Regions from separate parts of the Homo sapiens genome. Here region 1 is linked to region 2. Evidence: fine-mapped expression QTL. A gene starts in region 2. The other region holds a variant in brackets. All regions are shown on one strand. Distances are between the middles of the regions.

Evidence for each region. PIP is the estimated chance that this variant, and not a neighbour inherited with it, causes the effect.
Region 1: its variant is fine-mapped to the expression of DCPH1 in whole blood (TOPMed, PIP above 0.99).

Annotation. Positions count from the first base shown.
Region 1 is chr6:151,508,854-151,518,626 of GRCh38, forward strand. All of the region lies in intron 1 of CCDC170 (coiled-coil domain containing 170), which reads left to right. Among named protein-coding and RNA genes, the nearest start is that of CCDC170, 20 kb to the left of the region's middle. The variant G/A (reference allele first, on the strand shown) is at 4,274.
Region 2 is chr6:151,449,193-151,458,965 of GRCh38, forward strand. DCPH1 (damage control phosphatase 1) reads left to right here and starts at 3,274. Exons shown (of 5, transcript NM_024573.3): 1 at 3,274-3,394; 2 at 5,356-5,461; 3 at 9,136-9,380. The coding sequence starts at 3,354. RMND1 (required for meiotic nuclear division 1 homolog) reads right to left here and starts at 2,934. Exons shown (of 12, transcript NM_017909.4): 1 at 2,824-2,934. RefSeq lists enhancers at 2,662-2,711, 2,902-3,351, 6,210-6,967 and silencers at 3,512-3,631, 6,602-6,896.

The DNA of each region.
Region 1 (9,773 bases), 60 kb after region 2:
GAAAATACAAAATTAGCCGGGCGTGGTGGCGAACGCCTGTAATCCCAGCTACTTGGAGGGCTGAGGCAAGAGAATCACTTGAACCCAGGAGGCGGAGGTTGTGGTGGGGCGAGATCATGCCATTGCACTCCAGCCTGGGCAACAAGAGCGAAACTCCTTCTCAAAAAAAAAAAAAAAAAATACAAAAATAAATATTACATCTTAGAAAAATTTTCATTTTAAACTAAAATTTATCAAGTGTCTAATAATAAGTGAAGTGAAAAAAATCCCATTTGGGAAGAGTTCTAAAATCTTTAACATGTGGAAAGATCTCTTTCTCTCTCTCTCTCTCCCCCCTTTCGCTCTCTCTGTCTCATCTATCTATCTATGTATCTATCTATCTATCTATCTATCTATCTATCTATCTATGAATGATAATGATGAATAAAGTGTCTCATCTCGTTGTCAACAGGGACTTCTCATTCCACCATTCCTTTCTCAGTGGCTATTCCATATGTGACATTGTTCCCAAATTTGCATTCATTATTCTTGACAGCTATACCCAATACCTCCCATGGAGGTAGATCCTGTACAAATGCTAAAAAACTGCTAGTTGCTTAAAATAGGACCTGAAGTTAATTAATTTTTTGAGTCCAGCCTAAGAAATTATCTTACTAACTTGAACAGATATTTTTAAGCTTCATAGAACTTTATATTAAACTAAATTATAAGCTCCCAAATCAACAAGATCCAATCTGTACATTTATGAATGTGTACAGTTATGAACGTGGAAGAATCCATTTTCCAAAAAGTGGTTAGAAAGAGATTTATGAATTAATTAAAATTAAATCAATTATTTGAGCTTAACATTACTTATGGAAATGCAAGTGATTGTTACAATAGTCTTGGAGACAGCAATATCAAGCATCAGAAAATCATTCAATTTAGGGAAAGGTGATCATTTCAACTTTTAGCCAGGCATATATGGGACAATAACATTGTGAGTAAGAGGCCAGGCGTGGTGGCTCACGCCTGTAATCCCAGCACTTTGGGAGGCCAAGACAGCTGGATCACAAGGTCAGGAGTTCCAGACCAGCCTGGCCAACATAGTGAAACTCCGTCTCCACTAAAAATACAAAAATTAGCCAGGCATGGTGGTGCGCGCCTGTAATCCCAGCTACTCAGGAGGCTGAGGTATGAGAATCGCTTGAACCTGGGAGGTGGAGGTTGCGGTGAGAAAAGATTGCACCACAGCCTAGGCAACAGAAAGAGACTCCGTCTCAAAAACAAACAAGCCCATAAAACAAATAAACAAACAACAACAACAAAAAAACATTCTGAGTAAGAGCATGGGCTTTGGCGTCAGAAAGTCTTGGTTTGAATTCTTACTGTGTCATTTTGTTCATTCATTCCTCAAATATTTACTGATACTCAGTCACTGGGGCTACAGTGATGAACCAGAAGCCATTCTTCTATCTCTGTGGTAGAAAAAGAGCTTCCGAGAAAAATTTCACACTTATGCTAATTCTAGAAATGAGTTATTTATTACAGTAAAAACTGAAGAAAAAGGCAAAACAAAGCATTTTAATGTTTTCTGATTAACAAGTGAATTTAAATGTCATATATCAGTGAGGTTACAGAATAAAGATACTGAAGTCAGAGAGGGTGTGTTAATATAATTTCCCATAATGTACGTCTGCCATGCAAAAAAAACCCTTGAGATTAAGATTCGATATTGCAAAGGAGGTGATGAGGAGCTTTTAAAGATAGAATGAGTTAAGGAAATAATTGCAAACTTATTAGTCAGGACACTCATAACAAGATACAGAAAAATCGTAAATTAGATAGAAAGGGACTTTCACCCTAACAAATATTAAGGTTTATAATTTTATAAGTAAGTTTTTTTTCTTCTTCTTTTTTTTTTATAGAGTCTCGCTTTGTCACCCAGGCTGGAGTGCAGTGGCACAATCTCAGCTCACTGCAACCTCCACCTCCTGGGTTTAAGCAATTCTCCTGCCTCAGCCTCCTGAGTAGCTGGGATTACAGGTGCCTGCCACCATGCCTGGTTAATTTTTGTATTTTTAGTAGAGATGGGGTTTCACTATGTTGGCCAGGCTGGTCTCGAACTCCAGACCTCAGGTGATCCACCTGCTTCGGCCTCCCAAAGTGCTGGGATTTCAGGTGTGAGCCACTGCACCCAGCCTCAAGGTAAGTATTTTATAGATGTTTTATAGTTTTGTCCTTACCTAATAAGATGTGGATGAACAATTCATGGCTTTGCCTCTCCAGTGTATCTTGGTCGACTGTCTACTACGCTTTCCAGTTCTTCTAAAACTCACTAACTTTGCTTCTAAGTTTTTGTCTAGCGAGGGCTAATTTTTAAAATAGGGGGTTTATTATTTCCTGGTTTTACAAGACGTAGTGAAATTCCATCTATACTTGTTCTAGGGGGCTATTGTTTGCCCCCTAGAGTATAACACTAGTAAAGTGTTATAATTAAGTTCAGCCAGGTATTTTTATCTTTGACGTGCTAACCCTGTAAAGTGACCAGAGGGAAGAAGCCTTTCTGTTTGTCTATTTATCTTCCCATCCATGTGCTCATTCATTTATCCATCCATTAATTTATTCAACAAACATTAAATGTATATTCATTCACCAGATATTTATGGGGTGTTCATTATGTGCTAGGAAATGTGCTTGGTGCTAAGGATAAAAATATAATTGATTTCTAGCTTCTGCCTTCAAACACACAACCTTGTAGCTGACTCGTTCATTTATTAATGCCCAACATATATTTCATGAGTGCATACTATCTGCCAGGCACTGTTGCAGACACAGTACTGGAAAACAGAGGGCCTGCTCTCACGGAGCTTACATTCTAGTAGGTAGACATAAAACACAAGATGTTTTTGAGAGGTCCAAGAAGATAAGATTTGAATTTTTGTTTATCTTAATCTTAATTTACATTTTTGTATATGTTTGGTACCGTGCATAATATGTACAGTAGTATATGTATATCTTTTTTATTTTTGAGACAGGGTCTCAGTCTCTGCCACCCAGACTGGACTGCGGTGGCACGATCAGAGCTCTTTGCAGCCTCGATTTCCTGGGCTTGAGCCATCTCCCACCTCAGCCTCCTGAGTAGCTGGGACCATAGGGACACTACCATGCCTGGCTAATTTTTTAATTTTTGTAGAGACAGGGGTCTCACCATGTTGCCCAGGCTAGTCTCAGACTCCTGAGCATAAGCAATCCTCTTATCTCAACCTCCCAATGTGCTGGGATTACAGGGGTAAGCCACTGCACCCAGCAGTATACCGTTTTTTTTTGTTTTTTTTTTTTTTTGAGATGGAGTCTCGCTCTGTTGCCCAGGCTGGAGTGCAGTGGCATAATCTAGGCCCACTGCAGCCTCTGTCTCCTGGGTTCAAGCCATTCTCCTGCCTCAGCCTCCCGAGTATCTGGGACTATAGATGTGTACCACCACACCTGGCTAATTTTTGTATTTTTAGTAGAGAGGAGGTTTCACCATGTTGGCCAGCCTGGTCTCGAACTCCTGACCTCTAGTGATCCACGGGCCTTGGCCTTCCAAACTGCTGGGATTACAGGCATAAGCCACTGCACCCGGACCCAGTAGTATATCATTTTAAAATAAACACATATTTAAATTTGTTTCATAAACTCATACCAAGAGCTTGCAGACAAAAACATTTACAAACCCCAGGGTAAAAGCATGGGTGTTAGGATCAGAGACTTGTGGGTTTGAATCCAGGTTCTGCTTTACTCGTTGCCTGTGGGTCCTTGGGTAAGCCCGAGTTCCTCCTCCTTTCTAAGAACTGTTGTAAGGGTTGAGTGCAATAATGTTAGTAAAGTGTTTAACCGAGTTCCTCCTCCTTTCTAAGAACTGTTGTAAGGGTTGAGTGCAATAATGTTAGTAAAGTGTTTATGTTGCGTCTGTATATACCAAGTCCTTAAAAAAAGGATGACTAATGTTACTACTATGATTATTCTTCGTGTGATAAATATTATAATACAGACACCTCTTAAAGGGCATATAGAAATATTGAGAAGGAACTGATTAAGCAGTGACCCTTAAAGTCATGAACCTATGGTACATAATTGGTGGGAGTGTAAGTTGGTGCTATTTTCTATGCAATGTGTATCAAAACAATTTTTATTTCCTTTGACTCAGTTGTTTCTTTTCCAGAGAAACAACTTTCCTCATCCTAAGGAAACAGTCAGAATTCTAACAGATTTATAATAGTGATCAATTAGAAAGAGAACGAAATGTCGAATC[G/A]CGGGAGAGTAGTCAACTTAAAATACAGCTTTATGATGGAATATTGTGCAGCTGTTAACATTTTAAAAGAACACTTGGGGAAATATTAATATTAAATGTAGAAAACAGGTTGTAAAGTTGTAGTTACAGTATAACCCCAATTATATTTTTAAAAAGCACATGATATATTTGTATTAGAAAAACACTATAAAGAAATGCATCAGACAGGGATGGTGGCTCACGCCTGTAATCCCAGCACTTTGGGATGCCAAGGCGGGCAGATCACTTGAGGTCAGGAGTTCAAGAACAGCCTGGCCAACATGGTGAAACCCTGTCTTTACTGAAAATACAAAAATTAGCTGGGCATGGTGGTGCACACCTGTAGTTACAGCTACTGGGGAGGGTGAGGCAAGATAATTGCTTCAGCCTGGGAGGCAGAGGTTGCAGTAAGCCGAGATCCCACCACTGCACTCCAGCCTGGATGATAGAGTGAGAGAGGCTCCGTCTCAAAAAAAAAAAAAAAAAAAAAAAGCCAGGCACCATGGCTCATGCCTGTAATCCCAGCACTTTGGGAGGCTGAGGTGGGTGAATCATTTGAGGTCAGGGGTTCTAGACCAGCCTGGCCAAGATGATGAAAACCCCGTCTCTACTAAAAATACAAAAATTAGCTAGGCAGTAGTGGCATTCGCCTGTAATCCCACCTACTCCGGAGGCTGAGGCAGGAGAATCGCTTGAGCCTGGGAGGTGGAGGTTGTGATGAGCCAAGATCATGCCACTGCACTCCAGTCTGGATGACAGAATGAGACCCTGTCTCAAAAAAAAAAAAAAAAAAAAGAAAAAAGAAATGCATCAAAATACAATAGAGTTATCTCTGATAAGACTGTGGGTGGCATTCATTTTTTTCATCGATTAGACAATCACAGAAATATTAACCAAGATAAATAAAGCAAGATGAGCATGTGGGCAGGAGTGGTAACTGGGATAAAAAGAAATTTTGACCAGCCTGGACAACATGGTGAAACTCCATCTCTAAAAAATTACAAAAATTAGCTGGGCGTGGTGGCACGTGCTTGTAGTCCCAGCTACCTGGGAGGTTGAGATAAGACGATAACTTGAGACTGGGAGGTCAAGTCTGCAGTGAGCCGTGATCATGCCACTGCACTCCAGCCTGGATGACAGAGTGAAATCCTGGAAAGAAAGAAACGAAAGAAAATGAAAGAAAGGAAGGAAGGAGGGAGGGAGGGAGGGAGGGAGGGAGGGAGGGAGGGAGGAAGGAAGGAAGGAAGGAAGGAAGGGAGGGAAATTTTGCCTGGGGATCCTAGGAAGCCTTCACAAAAATGCCAGTTCCAACTCTTGAATGGGGCCCAGACTTTTGCCCAGTGGAGAAGCAGCTTGTGAAGAAAGAGGAAGAACCCAGAAGGTGAAACAGCGATGAAAGCTCTGTGGCATGCCGAGACACATTTAATTTTTTCCATGTGACTGGAGGTCAGGCTAGATATTGGGCATTGAGGCAGAAACCCTGGGAATGTGGGTTTTGGCTGATAGAGAAGAGACTCACATACCTTAAGGAGTTTATTCCTTACCTTGTCTATCGTGGGCAGCTTTGTAGGTGGGGAAAGATGGATCAGGTCTGCATTTCAGAGTGGCTACTTTGTGGCAGCACAAAGGTTAGGTCGGCACAAAGTGAGTCGGAAGGGAGAGCAGTGAGGAGCCTCTTGCTTCAGTCTCCATTCTTTTTGGATGAAGCCTTGGCAGAACCATTCATTTCCATCCTAATATTGAAATGCCTTCACATTATTACATCAGCTTAGGCTATGTGACTTTTGAAAGCTTGGTAGGTTGGTGTCAGATAAATGAGGCCTTCACACTCACTCACCTGGTCTCTGCAAGAAACTGGATCAAGGTGATGAGGAATGCACTCTTAATACCTGAACAAGAGGTCTTGGAAATTGTGTTTCTTATATTAACTAAACAAATGTAGTCAAATGCTATTATAAAGGATTGGCTGAAGAATATGCATTTCATTCATTCTATGCTCTACTTCAAAATTATCCTTGAAATGCAAGAGCCTGGGAGAGATGTCTACTTGGACTACATTGTTTGGACCCTGTTTTAGGCATTGGCATTACGCCATTAGATTTGTAAATCAAAAAGTATCTGAGACAAGTCTCCATCAATTTATTTACTTATTTATTGAGACGGAGTCTCACTCTGTCACCCAGACTGAAGTGCAATGGTGTGATCTTGGCTCACTGCAACCTCTGCCTCCCAGGTTCAAGCGATTCTCCTGCCTCAGCCTCCCAAGTAACTGGGACTACAGGTGCACATCACCACACCTGGCTAATTTTTGTATTTTTAGTAGAGACAGGGTCTCACCATATTGGCCAGTCTGGTCTGGAACTCCTGACCTCAGGTGATCTGCCTGCCTTGGCCTCCCAAAGTGCTAGGATTGTAGGCGTGAGCCACTGTGCAGGTGGGAAGCCCAGGTTCTTGTTATATAGATGATGCCTCCAGGTAGCAGGCTTCAGAGACAATAGATGGTAAATGTCTTCTTATCAGACCAATAAAAGGTGGTAGACTCTCCTGAAAAGACCTAATAAAGGAGAGAGATTCTTTACAGAATATACATTTCCTTCACAAGAGACAGCTTTGCAGGACCACTTAAAAATATGACAAAGAAAGTGTGGCGCAGTGGCTCATGCCTATAATCTCAACTCTTTGGAAGTCCGAAGCGGGTGGATCACGAGGTCAAGAGATCAAGACCATCCTGGCCAACATGGTGAAACCCTGTCTCTACTAAAAATACAAAAATTAGCTGGGTGTGGTGGCACATGCCTGTAGTCCCAGCTACTCGGGAGGCTGAGGCAGGAGAATCACTTGAACCCTGGAGGCAGAGGTTGCAGTGAGCTGAGATCGCGCCACTGCACTCCAGCCTGGTGACAGAGCAAGATTCTGTCTCAGAAAAAAAAAAAAAAGAAAAGACAAATATATTTTGAGGTAAAATACTTCGATTTCTTTCAGGGCTGTTATCTGTCATATAATGCTATACTAGAGTCAGGTTGGAATTTGGTATCTTATTGCTACAGGAGTCTGTTCTCTCAGTCTTAAGATCTCTGTTTTAATGTTAATGCTGGTCAGTTGTGTCTGAATTCCAAAGGGAGAAGGGTATAATGAAGTATGTTGGGCCTCCATTTTCCATCAAGGCTTGAACTAGTTTCAGGTTTACTTTGGAATGCCCTTGGCCAAGAGGAGGTCTCCATTCAGTCAGTTGGAAGGCTTAGAATGTTATTTTTAGTTGATAGATTGTTTTGTGGGTTTTGAAATTTGTCATGATTTCTTGTCATGAATGGGTGTGTTGTAACTGAGCAGGTTCTTTGCTTTACCATGAGGTCCTAGTAAATCATGTTGAAGCGGTGTTGTTGTCTAGGGTAAATACCCAGGGTTTGTCATCTCGCACCAAGAAGATTAAGGACACAGACACACATGAGGAGTGAGTTTAGGAGCAGAGGTTTGATAGGCAAAAGAAAGAGAAAGAAGAACAGCTCTCTCCCTTGAAAGAGAGAGGAGTTCCTGAAAGGGAAAAACTGGTCAGCTCTAGACTGTACCAGATTTTACAGGCAGGCTTGAGGAGACAGTGTCTGATTTACGTAGGGCCCAGAGATTGGTTCAACCAGGTGCGATGTTTACCTAGTGCGTGGGGAAGGCTGGTGGTCCCACCCTAATCTTATTATGCAAATGGAGTCTTTGCCTGGCTGGTGCCATATTGTCTTTTCCTTACTGTGCACATGCTTTGGCAAAAAGAGAGAAGATGAACATGCCTAGTCCCAGGAAGCCTTTTCCTTTTGGCACAACTGCCAACTTCCACCCATGCAAGCTTCCAGCTTACTTGTCTATGCCTGCAGCTTGATTTTACAAGCTGCTCTTTGTTAGGAAAGAAAATGATTTTGGGGCCGGGCACAGTGGCTCACGCCTATAATCCTAGCACTTTGGGAGGCCTAGGTGGATGGATACCTGAGGTCAGGAGTTGGAGACCAGCCTGACCAACATGGAGAAACTGTCTCTACTAAAAATACAAAATTAGCCAAGTGTGGTGGCACATGCCTATAATCCCATCTACTCGGGAGGCTGAGGCAGGAGAATTGCTTGAATCTGGGAGGTGGAGGTTGCAGTGAGCCAAGATCACCCCATTGCACTCCATCCTGGGCAACAAGAGTGAGACTGTGTCTCAGTAAACAAAAAACAAAAGAAAATTATTTTGGGGCTGCTTTTCATTTAAAAGAAAACCTTACTGAGGACTCCCATACCCTTACTAATGATTTCTTCTTCTTCTTTTTTTTTTTTTTTTTGAGATGGAGTCCTGCACTGTCACCCAGGCTGCGTGCAGTGGCACAATCTCGGCTCACTGCAGCCTCTGCCTCCTGGGTTCAAGCAATTCTCCTGCCTCAGTCTCCTGAGTAGCTGAGATTACTGGTGCCCAACACCATGCCTGGCTAATTTTTTTTTTCTTTTTGTATTTTTAGTAGAGACGGGGTTTCACCATGTTGGTCAGGCTGGTCTCGAACTCCTGACCTCGTGATCCACCCACCTCGGCCTCCCAAAGTGCTGGGATTACAGGCGTGAGCCACCGTGCCCGGCCACTAATAATTTCTTCTTAACTCCTGTATCAATGTGACTCATGTCTGTCGACTTGGAAGGGCCAAGTCAAGCTGTGGTCTACCTCTAGGAAGTGTACAATACTCACAGCACATATATAATACTCCTGTGCTTCCTCTTATTTTTTCCCTCCTTTAATTTTTCTTTACGGCCATTTGCTTCTTTTTTTTTTTTCATTCTTTCTTGTTTTCACACTGGATAAGAAATAGCCCTTAAGCTTTGGATGGAAATTAAAGGAATTCTCAAAAATCCAGGCCTTTTGCAAACAGTAAAGATTATACGAAACACTAGCAAGGTGGGGCCTTGCCTTCAGTTTATGGTCCTGCCATGGTACAGGAGAAGCATGTCCCAGAACAGCCACAGAGTCCAGAAGAAGGCAACCTTTCTCCTTTTGACTTGTAGTTATGGTATACATCCATGTTTTTTAGTTTGTTAATGCTTCTGGGTGGACCAGGCTGAGATGGAGTGTTGCAAGCTATCTTTCTTAGTGTGGGAAAATCTGTGCACTTTCTAAGCCAGCCCATCTCCAGGGGGTGGGATCTTGGAGAAATCAGGCAGCTCCAGGGGCTGAGGGGATTTGGTTTAGCAGATGAGAATGGGACGAGACTGTCAAGTCAATCAAATGTGAGGACTAAGATGTTAGTAAAAAAAGCATACATTTGTTACCAGGAAGGAGTCCCAATCCAGACCCCCAAGAGAGGGTTCTTGGATCTTGTTCAAGAAAGAATTTGGGTGAGTTCACAGAGTAAAGTGAAAGCAAGTTTATTAATAAAGTAAAGGAATAAAAGGGTGCCTACTCCATAGGCAGAGCAGCCTCGAGGGCTGCTGGCTGGCTATTTTTATAGTTATTTCTTGATTATGTGATAAA
Region 2 (9,773 bases):
CTCGTCTCTACTAAAAATACAAAAAAATTAGCTGAGCGTGGCGGCGGGTGCCTGTAATCCCAGTTACTCGGGAGGCCAAGGCAGGAGAATCGCCTGAACCCGGGAGGTGGAGGTTGCAGTGAGCCGAGATCGCGCCACTGCACTAAAGTCTGGGCGACAGAGTGAGATTCTGTAACGAAAAAAAAAAAAAAAAGCTAAACCCCTCAGAATGGCCTGCATGGCACTACATTATCTGTCCTTTATCACCACTTTGACAGCACTCTCCTTTGCTTATTTTGCTCCTCATTCTGGTCTCTGGATCTGTGCACTTGCTGTTCCTTACGCTCTTCTCCCAGGGATCTGAAAGGCTCACACCCTCACCTCCTTCAGATGTTTGCTAAAATGTCTTCTACCCAGTGAAGCCTTCCCCAACCACTACATTAAAAACACACAACCAGCCCTCTCCCTCTCCCTCCTCTCCCTCTCCCCACGGTCCCCCTCTCCCCACGGTCTCCCTCTGATGCCGAGCCGAAGCTGGACTGTACTGCTGCCATCTCGGCTCACTGCAACCTCCCTGCCTGATTCTCCTGCCTCAGCCTGCCGAGTGCCTGCGATTACAGGCGCATGCCGCCACGCCTGACTGGTTTTCGTACTTTTTTGGTGGAGACGGGGTTTCGCTGTGTTGGCCGGGCTGGTCTGCAGCTCCTAACCGCGAGTGATCTGCCAGCCTCGGCCTCCCGAGGTGCCGGGTTTGCAGACGGAGTCTGGTTCACTCAGTGCTCAATGGTGCACAGGCTGGAGTGCAGTGGCGTGATCGAGGCTCGCTACAACCTCCACCTCCCAGCCGCCTGCCTTGGCCTCCCAAAGTGCCGAGATTGCAGCCTCTGCCTGGCCCCCCATCGTCTGGGACGTGAGGAGCCCCTCTGCCTGGCTGCCCAGTCTGGAAAGTGAGGAGCGTCTCTGCCCGGCCGCCATCCCATCTAGGAAGTGAGGAGCACCTCTTCCCGGCCGCCATCCCATCTAGGAAGTGAGGGGAGTCTCTGCCCGGCCGCCCATCGTCTGAGATGTGGGGAGCACCTCTGCCCCGCCGCCCCGTCTGGGATGTGAGGAGCGCCTCTGCCCGGCCGCCCCATCTGAGAAGTGAGGAGACCCTCCGCCCGGCAGCCACCCCATCCGGGAGGGAGGTGGGGGTCAGCCCCCGCCAGGCCAGCCACCCCATCCGGGAGGGAGGTGGGGGTCAGCCCCCCGCCCGGCCAGCCACCCCGTCTGGGAGGGAGGTGGGGGGGCCAGCCCCCGTCCGGGAGGAAGGTGGGGTGTCAGCCCCCCGCCCGGCCAGCCGCCCCGTCCGGGAGGGAGGTGGGGGGTCAGCCCCCCGCCCGGCCAGCCGCCCCGTCCGGGAGGGAGGTGGGGGGGTCAGCCCCCCGCCCGGCCAGCCGCCCCGTCCGGGAGGTGAGGGGCGCCTCTGCCCGGCCGCCCCTACTGGGATGTGAGGAGCCCCTCTGCCCGGCCACCACCCCGTCTGGGAGGTGTACTCAACAGCTCATTGAGAACGGGACGGGATGACAATGGCGGTTTTGTGTAATAGAAAGGGGGGAAAGGGGGGGAAAAGATTGAGAAATCGGATGGTTGCCGTGTCTGTGTAGAAAGAAGTAGACATGGGAGACTTTTCATTTTGTTCCATACTAAGAAAAATTCTTCTGCCTTGGGATCCTGCTAATCGGTGACCTTACCCCCAACCCTGTGCTCTCTGAAACATGTGCTGTGTCCACTCAGAGTTGAATGGATTAAGGGCGGTGCAAGATGTGCTTTGTTAAACAGATGCTTGAAGGCAGCGTGCTGGTTAAGAGTCATCACCACTCCCTAATCTCAAGTACCCAGGGACACAAACACTGCGGAAGGCCGCAGGGTCCTCTGCCTAGGAAAACCAGAGACCTTTGTGCACTTGTTTATCTGCTGACCTTCCCTCCACTATTGTCCTATGACCCTGCCAAATCCCCCTCTGCGAGAAACACCCAAGAATGATCAATAAAAAAAAAAAAAAAAAAAAACACAACCAGCATCCATTCTCTTATCTTCCTCCACTTTGCATTTCTCCATTGTTTAACATCACTTGCACACCTTTAATTTTTAGTTTATTAATTCATACTGCAAACGAACTCAGTTCTTATCATGTGCCAGGTATTGTCCTAGTTGCTGACAATACAGCTGAAAATAAAATAGACAAAAATCCTATCTTTTGAATCTTTTGAACCTTGCATTGGGAGTGACAGACAAAACGAGGTAAATCAGTAAAATACGTGAGACACAAAGCTAAAGGAAAAAAATAAGAGGAAAGGGCAGATTTTTGTGTCTTCCTTCCAGAATGGAAGCTCCCTGAGGATACGGATTTGTGTTTTTTCCTATTATATCTCCTGACAATAGCGCCCAGCACATAGTAGGCATTCGATCGAATTTTTAAAATGAAATACAAGGCAGTTACTCAGTTCCCGGGCACATTTCAACTTTTAGAGAACAATTACACCAATTAAGAAAATCGATTACAGCTAGGCTACGATTCGAGAGCTAAGTGGCGCTCATCTTTGGGAGTATGCCGTTCAATTCCTCAAACTCAAAATTATTTTATCGATTTCTACAGTTACCGCGGTGCACTGGCTCAAAAAAAGGGTTCATTAATTGAGTGCTTTTTACTCCCAGCTAAGCTGACCAAAGATCACGGTAAGAGGCAAAGGGTCACAGCCGCACTGGCGTAACCCGTAACTGTACACGTTCCGGGCGGCCAGGAGCCAGGGCGCAGACCTCCAAGCCGGACCACTCGAGCTGCTAAAGAAAAGGCAATACACTAACCTCTCCGCCGGAAGAGAAGAAGGAAGCGCCAGGGACGCACGCTTCCTCGGCAGGACTGCAGGGAAAGAGCCGCACCCCCAGCCTCTCACTACTGCAGCCAACCCATCTCCTGGAAGGGCGCTCCCGCCCACCCCCGCTACTGCGCAGCCGCACTGAACTCTGGTCCCACTTAGCGGGAGAAACTCGGGCCACGTGACTGTCTGACCACGTGAGCCGCGTCGCCGCGACCTCTTCCGCTCCCTAGGCCCTGGGACCTCCCGGTCCCTTGCCTGCTTCCGGCTTTCGCTCGCTTCCATATCCGCTCCTCTAGTCGCCCTCCGCTGGCCCCGCCTTCGTCCCCGGAAGATTGGGTCTTCTGGCGAGCCACTGTTTGCCGTTTGATCGGGCACCAAATAAAGTTTCTTTATTCAAAAGCACTTTTTTTTTAAAGCCACACCACCCCCATTCTCAGCTCCTCCTTCGCGGCGGTACCGCCTCTGTTTCTGCGGCGATTGAACAGCCGAGCTTTGCGGCCGGGATCGCGGAAAGTGATGGCTGTCGTCCCGGCGTCTCTCTCAGGACAGGACGTGGGGTTAGTCTAGCTTTTCTCCTCCCCACTTTTGCGGAAAGCCGGGCCTCGCCGGGAGCCTGTGGGGACTAAGCGGAGGGCGCCCGCTCCCCGGTGGGCTGCGTTCGAGTCCCGCCGCCGGGCGCGGCTTTCCGGGGCGCCTTTGCGGGTTTCGCGGACTGGCTCGGAGGCGAAGGGAGGCGGCCCCGGGGAGGGAGCCTGCCCGCGGCGGCTGCTCGTAAGGATCAGGACAGGGGTCAGCTTCGCGGTCTGTTCCTGGCGGTCACTTTTTATTTATTCACTTTAATAGACGCGCTTTGGGGGCGTTAAAATTCTGCGTAAGAGTTGGGGATCTCAGCGCTATTAAGAAACGGGTTTCTCCCTGTTGTTGATCAAATCGTAATCTCACAGTAAGAACTGTCTAGTTTTTTGCTTTATAGTCGTCACGCTACTGATTCTTGGGTAAAGTTGTGGGTGACCGTGCAAATAACATCCATTTGCATAAATCGAATGGCCAAATTTATATTTGAAATTTGTCCTTACTTCAAAATATTGCAAAAGACGAGAACACTTTGAAGAAAATAAACCTGGGCAGAAAGTAGGTTGAGGCCAACAAAGTGGCGCCAATGGCCCCAAATTGAGGCAGTCACTGTTTCAGGTCATGCAAGTATAGAGAGTATCTCCTTCAATTTTGCGCCCTAGGGCTTCTGGCCTCACTCCAGTCCTGGCCAGAGACTTTGTTCCAGAGGTGCAGGAAATGTAGTAGTTAGGAAAACAGTAATACTTTCCAATTAAAGTAAAATCTCAAAAAAGGACTTACTATACCTACTGCCTGGGAAAATTCAAGTGACAGTTGATTTAATGTTCCTGCTCACCCTCTGAGGTATTAGTGATTTCTTTTATTAATGATTTTTAAAAATTAAATTCTGATCAACGTAGTTATTATGCGCATTAAAACCTAATCACTGTTTTGGGTGGTACTGAAAGCACCACAGAGTCGGAAAGTGTGTGCAGTTTTTTTCTTAAAGTTCTATAGCTATCATTTGAGGAAACCTTTTGAAGAAATACCCAAGTTACAATCTAGTAATTTAACAATTGTCTCCTGTGATCTGGAGATAAAAACACTAGTCAGCTAAGCTCTGTGCTCTATATTTAAAACTGCACAGAATTTCTCCACCAAATAAAGCTTTTTTTCTACCTGTATCATGTATTTCCTTAGAATGATATAAAATGATAATCTGTAAATCTTGGGTTTTGTATGAATAAAATCAAGAATATCTTTAATTTTTTAATGCAGGTATAAGTTTTTCTTCATCTCCAGCTTGCTTCATTCTTGAACACTTCTATAAAATCTCTGATTTTTTGAGTGGGAAGAGACAGTAGCACGCCTTCATTTGCTTAGGGGCAGAATAGGATGGAAGGAGTCCATTGTGCAGATAGAGAAGGCAGAGAAGGGGAAAATTTTTGAAAATAATTAAAATTGACTTAGAAAATAGACAGAATGGAGAGAAACAGGCTTAAAAGTACCTTTAATTCTTTATGTTGTTCAAGCACATTAGACCCTTTAGGTGGTTTTAGATGCATTGCTTCATTCATCTTTCTAAGCAGGTGACTTAGCAGATAGTAGACCTGGGACAAGAGCCTGTTTGATTTCTAAGCTAATCCATTCCCTATCCTATCACTTTGCTAAGCGAGTTTCTGATTTAGGAAAATAAAAGCAATAGAATAGGAAAGATAAGAATGATTAAACAGACTCCATGGGAGAATCTGGGATTAGAGGCACCAAGACAGTTTGGCTTCCATGACATACCAGCGAATTTTCCAGGTTTTCTTATGTCTTAATATAGTAATCATACAATACTTGTCTATCTTTTAATAGTTGTATGAGGAGTTTAATATACATGAAGTGTTCCAGAAACTAAAAGATAGCCAGTCTTCTAGTATTGATGCTGCTAAGTTATATATTGCATGTGACTCTTTTCTAGATCATTTGCATATCTTACAATTAAAGACAGAATACCACAGATCTTAACTAAGGTTATTGATACATTGCATCGACATAAAAGTGAATTTTTTGAGAAACACGGAGAGGTAAGAATTGTTTTAACTTTTAATTTTTTGTTAATTTCTCAACAGAAACATAATAAATAGTTCTTGAAGGTATCAATTTTCCTTTAAATGTAAAAATCAATAGATGGGCCAAGTATTTATTTGTTTTTAAGGTAATACATTGAAATGAAGATAGAACAGCCAATCTTCAATTTAGAAAATGATTGTGTTCCAATAATTAATTCTGTCAGTTATTTAGACTTCAGAATGTATTTTCTAATATATGCAATGTTGTAATTGGTGACTGGGCAACAGACTTGCAATTGACTTAGTCAAGTGACTAAGCAATTGAGTTGCTTAGAAGAGCTTTTTAAATTTCAAGTTTAATTTGAGTTGCAGTATTTATATTACTAATTTGAGATCTTGAGTCCTGGAAGTTCAAGCTGCTATGCAAAGCTCAGTGATATGAATTATAATTGATTGACACATTGTACTGATTCAAGTTGGGACTCATTAGCATTCAGTGCAGAATAGGACTTTAGAAATCACTTTGTCCATTCAATTAATGGATGAGGAAAAATCCAAATAACTATGTTATTGAAGGGGTGGGTTGCCCCTCCACACCTGTGGGTGTTTCTCGTAAGGTGGAACGAGAGACTTGGAAAAGAAAAAGACACAGAGACAAAGTATAGAGAAAGAAATAAGGGGACCTGGGGAACCAGCGTTCAGCATATGGAGGATCCCGCCAGCCTCTGAGTTCCCTTAGTATTTATTGATCATTCGTGGGTGTTTCTCCGAGAGAGGGATGTGTCAGGGTCACAAGACAATTGTGGGGAGAGGGTCAGCAGACAAACACGTGAACAAAGGTCTTTGCATCATAGACAATGTAAAGGATTAAGTGCTGTGCTTTTAGATATGCATACACATAAACATCTCAATGCTTTACAAAGCAGTATTGCTGCCCGCATGTCCCACCTCCAGCCCTAAGGCGGTTTTTCCCTATCTCAGTAGATGGAACATACAATTGGGTTTTATACCGAGACATTCCATTGCCCAGGGACGGGCAGGAGACAGATGCCTTCCTCTTGTCTCAACTGCAAGAGGCATGCCTTCCTCTTACACTAATCCTCCTCAGCACAGACCCTTTACGGGTGTCGGGCTGGGGGACGGTCAGGTCTTTCCCTTCCCACGAGGCCATATTTCAGACTATCACATGGGGAGAAACCTTGGACAATACCTGGCTTTCCTAGGCAGAGGTCCCTGCGGCCTTCCGGCCTTCCGCAGTTTTTGTGCCCCTGGGTACTTGAGATTAGGGAGTGGTGATGACTCTCAAGGAGTATGCTGCCTTCAAGCATCTGTTTAACAAAGCACATCTTGCACCGCCCTTAATCCATTTAACTCCGAGTTGACACAGCACATGTTTCAGAGAGCACGGGGTTGGGGGTAAGGTTATAGATTAACAGAATCTCAAGGCAGAAGAATTTTTCTTAGTACAGAACAAAATGGAGTCTCCTATGTCTACTTCTTTCTACACAGACACAGTAACAATCTGATCTCTCTTGCTTTTCCCCACATGTTATGTTAGACATAGGTCTTTAAACTTGTAGGTTCAGTAATCTTTCTATTACACAATAGACTGTAAAAGAGCATACATATACCAGTACATTTTTTTTGAGAGTTGAAAACAAAAATTTAGAGAAATGGTTGGTGATCTTTTCTCCTTGGCCAAATTGAAATGGAGCAAGATAACACACATGCAGTTTGAGTGTAATGTTCTACTTCTTTCAACTTCTTTTATATTGTCTTGTTTAAAACTAATCCTGGCATAACACAGGGATTACCTGTTGTTCCTTGTTGCTAAAATCCGGCTTAATTTAGACACTGACAATTATATTGCTGAATGGTTTTAATGTTTATCACATAAACATAATTTTGGTAACTGACATATCTTTATCACACAAGTATAATTTAGCCAAATTTGGATAGTTCACTTTAGTATTTGGTCATATACGCAAGCAAATTACCATAATACTTTTGTTTTTCTTGTTGTTGTTTTTTGAGACAGGGTCTTGTTCTGTCTACTAGGCAGAGTGCAGTGGTGCAGTCATAGCTCACTGCAGCCTCAAACTCCTAGATTCCAGCAATTCTCCCAGTTCAGCATCCTAAAGTGCTGGCATTACAGGCGTGAGCCACTGTGCCTGGCCCCATAATGCTTTTGTAATTTCAGTTTTTTCGGCCAGAGTGATCTAAAATGTAGTAATTAATGAAGTCCTAGTATATTGCTACTTGGCCTGTATGCCCGTAATCACCAGGTGACTGAAGGCAGAGTTTATTGTCTCTCCAGCCCTCCCCCATTTCACACTCTACTGAGCACAGAACAAGATGTAAATTGACACAGATAAAGTCTGCTTTTGGTAGCCTTTCTGTCCCTTTTTCATGCCTCTGTTATACCTATGGCCACTCTCCTTGGGCCTCATGTGTTCTAGCTTCCTAAGCCCCCACCTATAGCAGGGCCAGGCTTATCTCCGAAGGAGCCATGCCACACAGTTTTCTATCTTCCCCCACCTCAGCGGTCAAACGTCCGTGCCCTTAGACTACCTGGTTTGGCAGATGTGTGTCTCTTGGAGACAGGACCAGGCTTTATTCATCTTTCTCTGGCCCTGAGGTTAGTGTCAGGCACATACAGGGTTCAGTAAATGTTTGAATTCAATTCAAGTAAGTGAACAAAGTGGCAGTGACATCACTATTAATCCATTAGCCTTTTTAGGTATATGCTTCTGTAAAAGGGTGCCTGACACCCTGTAAAACCTCAGTTGTTGGAATTTATAGTTAAAGAGTTGAAGTTTAAGACTTTAGGGAAGAGATTTGGAGGAGGGGGAGTTCCTCTCAAAACAGTCAGCTACAACTTCTTTTCTTCTATTTCTGAACCTGCAGAATCTCGAAAGCTTCAATCTTTTTTTCTAGCAGCAAAATAAATTGTACTTGGAACAAAAGAAAGATTGGAGAGATGTTTATATTGAGAAAATTACAGATCTGAAAGTAGGGACTAAATATCAACATGATAAAAATGATCTTATAAAAATACTCAGGCTTGATGTTTATTCTCTACATTTTATTATATACGTGTCTTATTAGGCTTACATTTTCTTTTTTTTTAATGGAGCAGGAATCTTGCTAATGTAAAACCAAGGTGTGAAGTCATTTTCACTTCATTCTGATCCCATTACATTTGTCCCCACTCCAATTGGCCTGTTATGTGAGATAATATTGTAGTGCCTTGTTTGTCAGCATATGTCATCTCTCACCTAGCTAGAACTTGGTGGAAAACAAGTTAAAAAAAATTTGAGCTACCAAAAGAAACCTCAGAAAGCCCACAGTTTCTTTTCTAGTGGTGTCAATGGTGAAAGAAGAATATGTATGGAAGCATGAAAGACATGGAAAATCTGGCAGGGGTTCCTTTCCCTCTGTGGTAATGGTCATCCCACCGAAGATACAGAAAGGCCAGAACTTAGGTAGATAAGGCATGATTATGTTCATATGAGATCTGTGTGTGTTTTTTGATTTTCAGTTTAAGAGTTCTAAATGTAATGTTTAAAGAAATAAAATGTAGTTTTGAACATTTTTCTTTTCTTCTTAAGTCTGTAAAAATATGTTACCCTAGAGGAATTGCACAGACACACACACACACACAATTTATTTTTCTTGTATTTTTGCAGGAAGGCGTGGAAGCTGAAAAGAAAGCTATCTCTCTCCTTTCTAAATTACGGAATGAATTGCAAACAGATAAACCATTTATCCCCTTGGTTGAGAAATTTGTTGATACTGATATATGGAATCAGTACCTAGAATATCAACAGAGTCTTTTAAATGAAAGTGATGGAAAATCAAGATGGTTCTACTCACCGTGGTTGTTGGTAGAATGTTACATGTATCGAAGAATTCATGAAGCAATTATCCAGAGGTACGTGTGTAATCATCAACTATCAAATGTTTAGATAATTTATACTTTTTCTGAAATTGTAAAAGGATAAGTTTAAAAATAAGCACCAGTGGAAGCTTGAATTTGGTTGAGTTTAGCAAATCTTAATAGCATTGTTGGACATTTCTACAAATGTTACTGATGGACATTTCTACAAATGTTACTGATGGACATTTCTATAGCTGTTACCAATTTAACAGATTCTTGGCAATTATAATCTACTTGCCTAGAATAGACATAAGAGTAAATATCTAAAGTACGAATTGGCCAGGCCCTGAGGTTCATGCTTGTAATCCCAGCACTTTGGGAGGCTGAGGTGGGCAGATTGCTTGAGGTCAGGAGTTCGAGACCAGCCTGGCCAGCATAACGAAACCC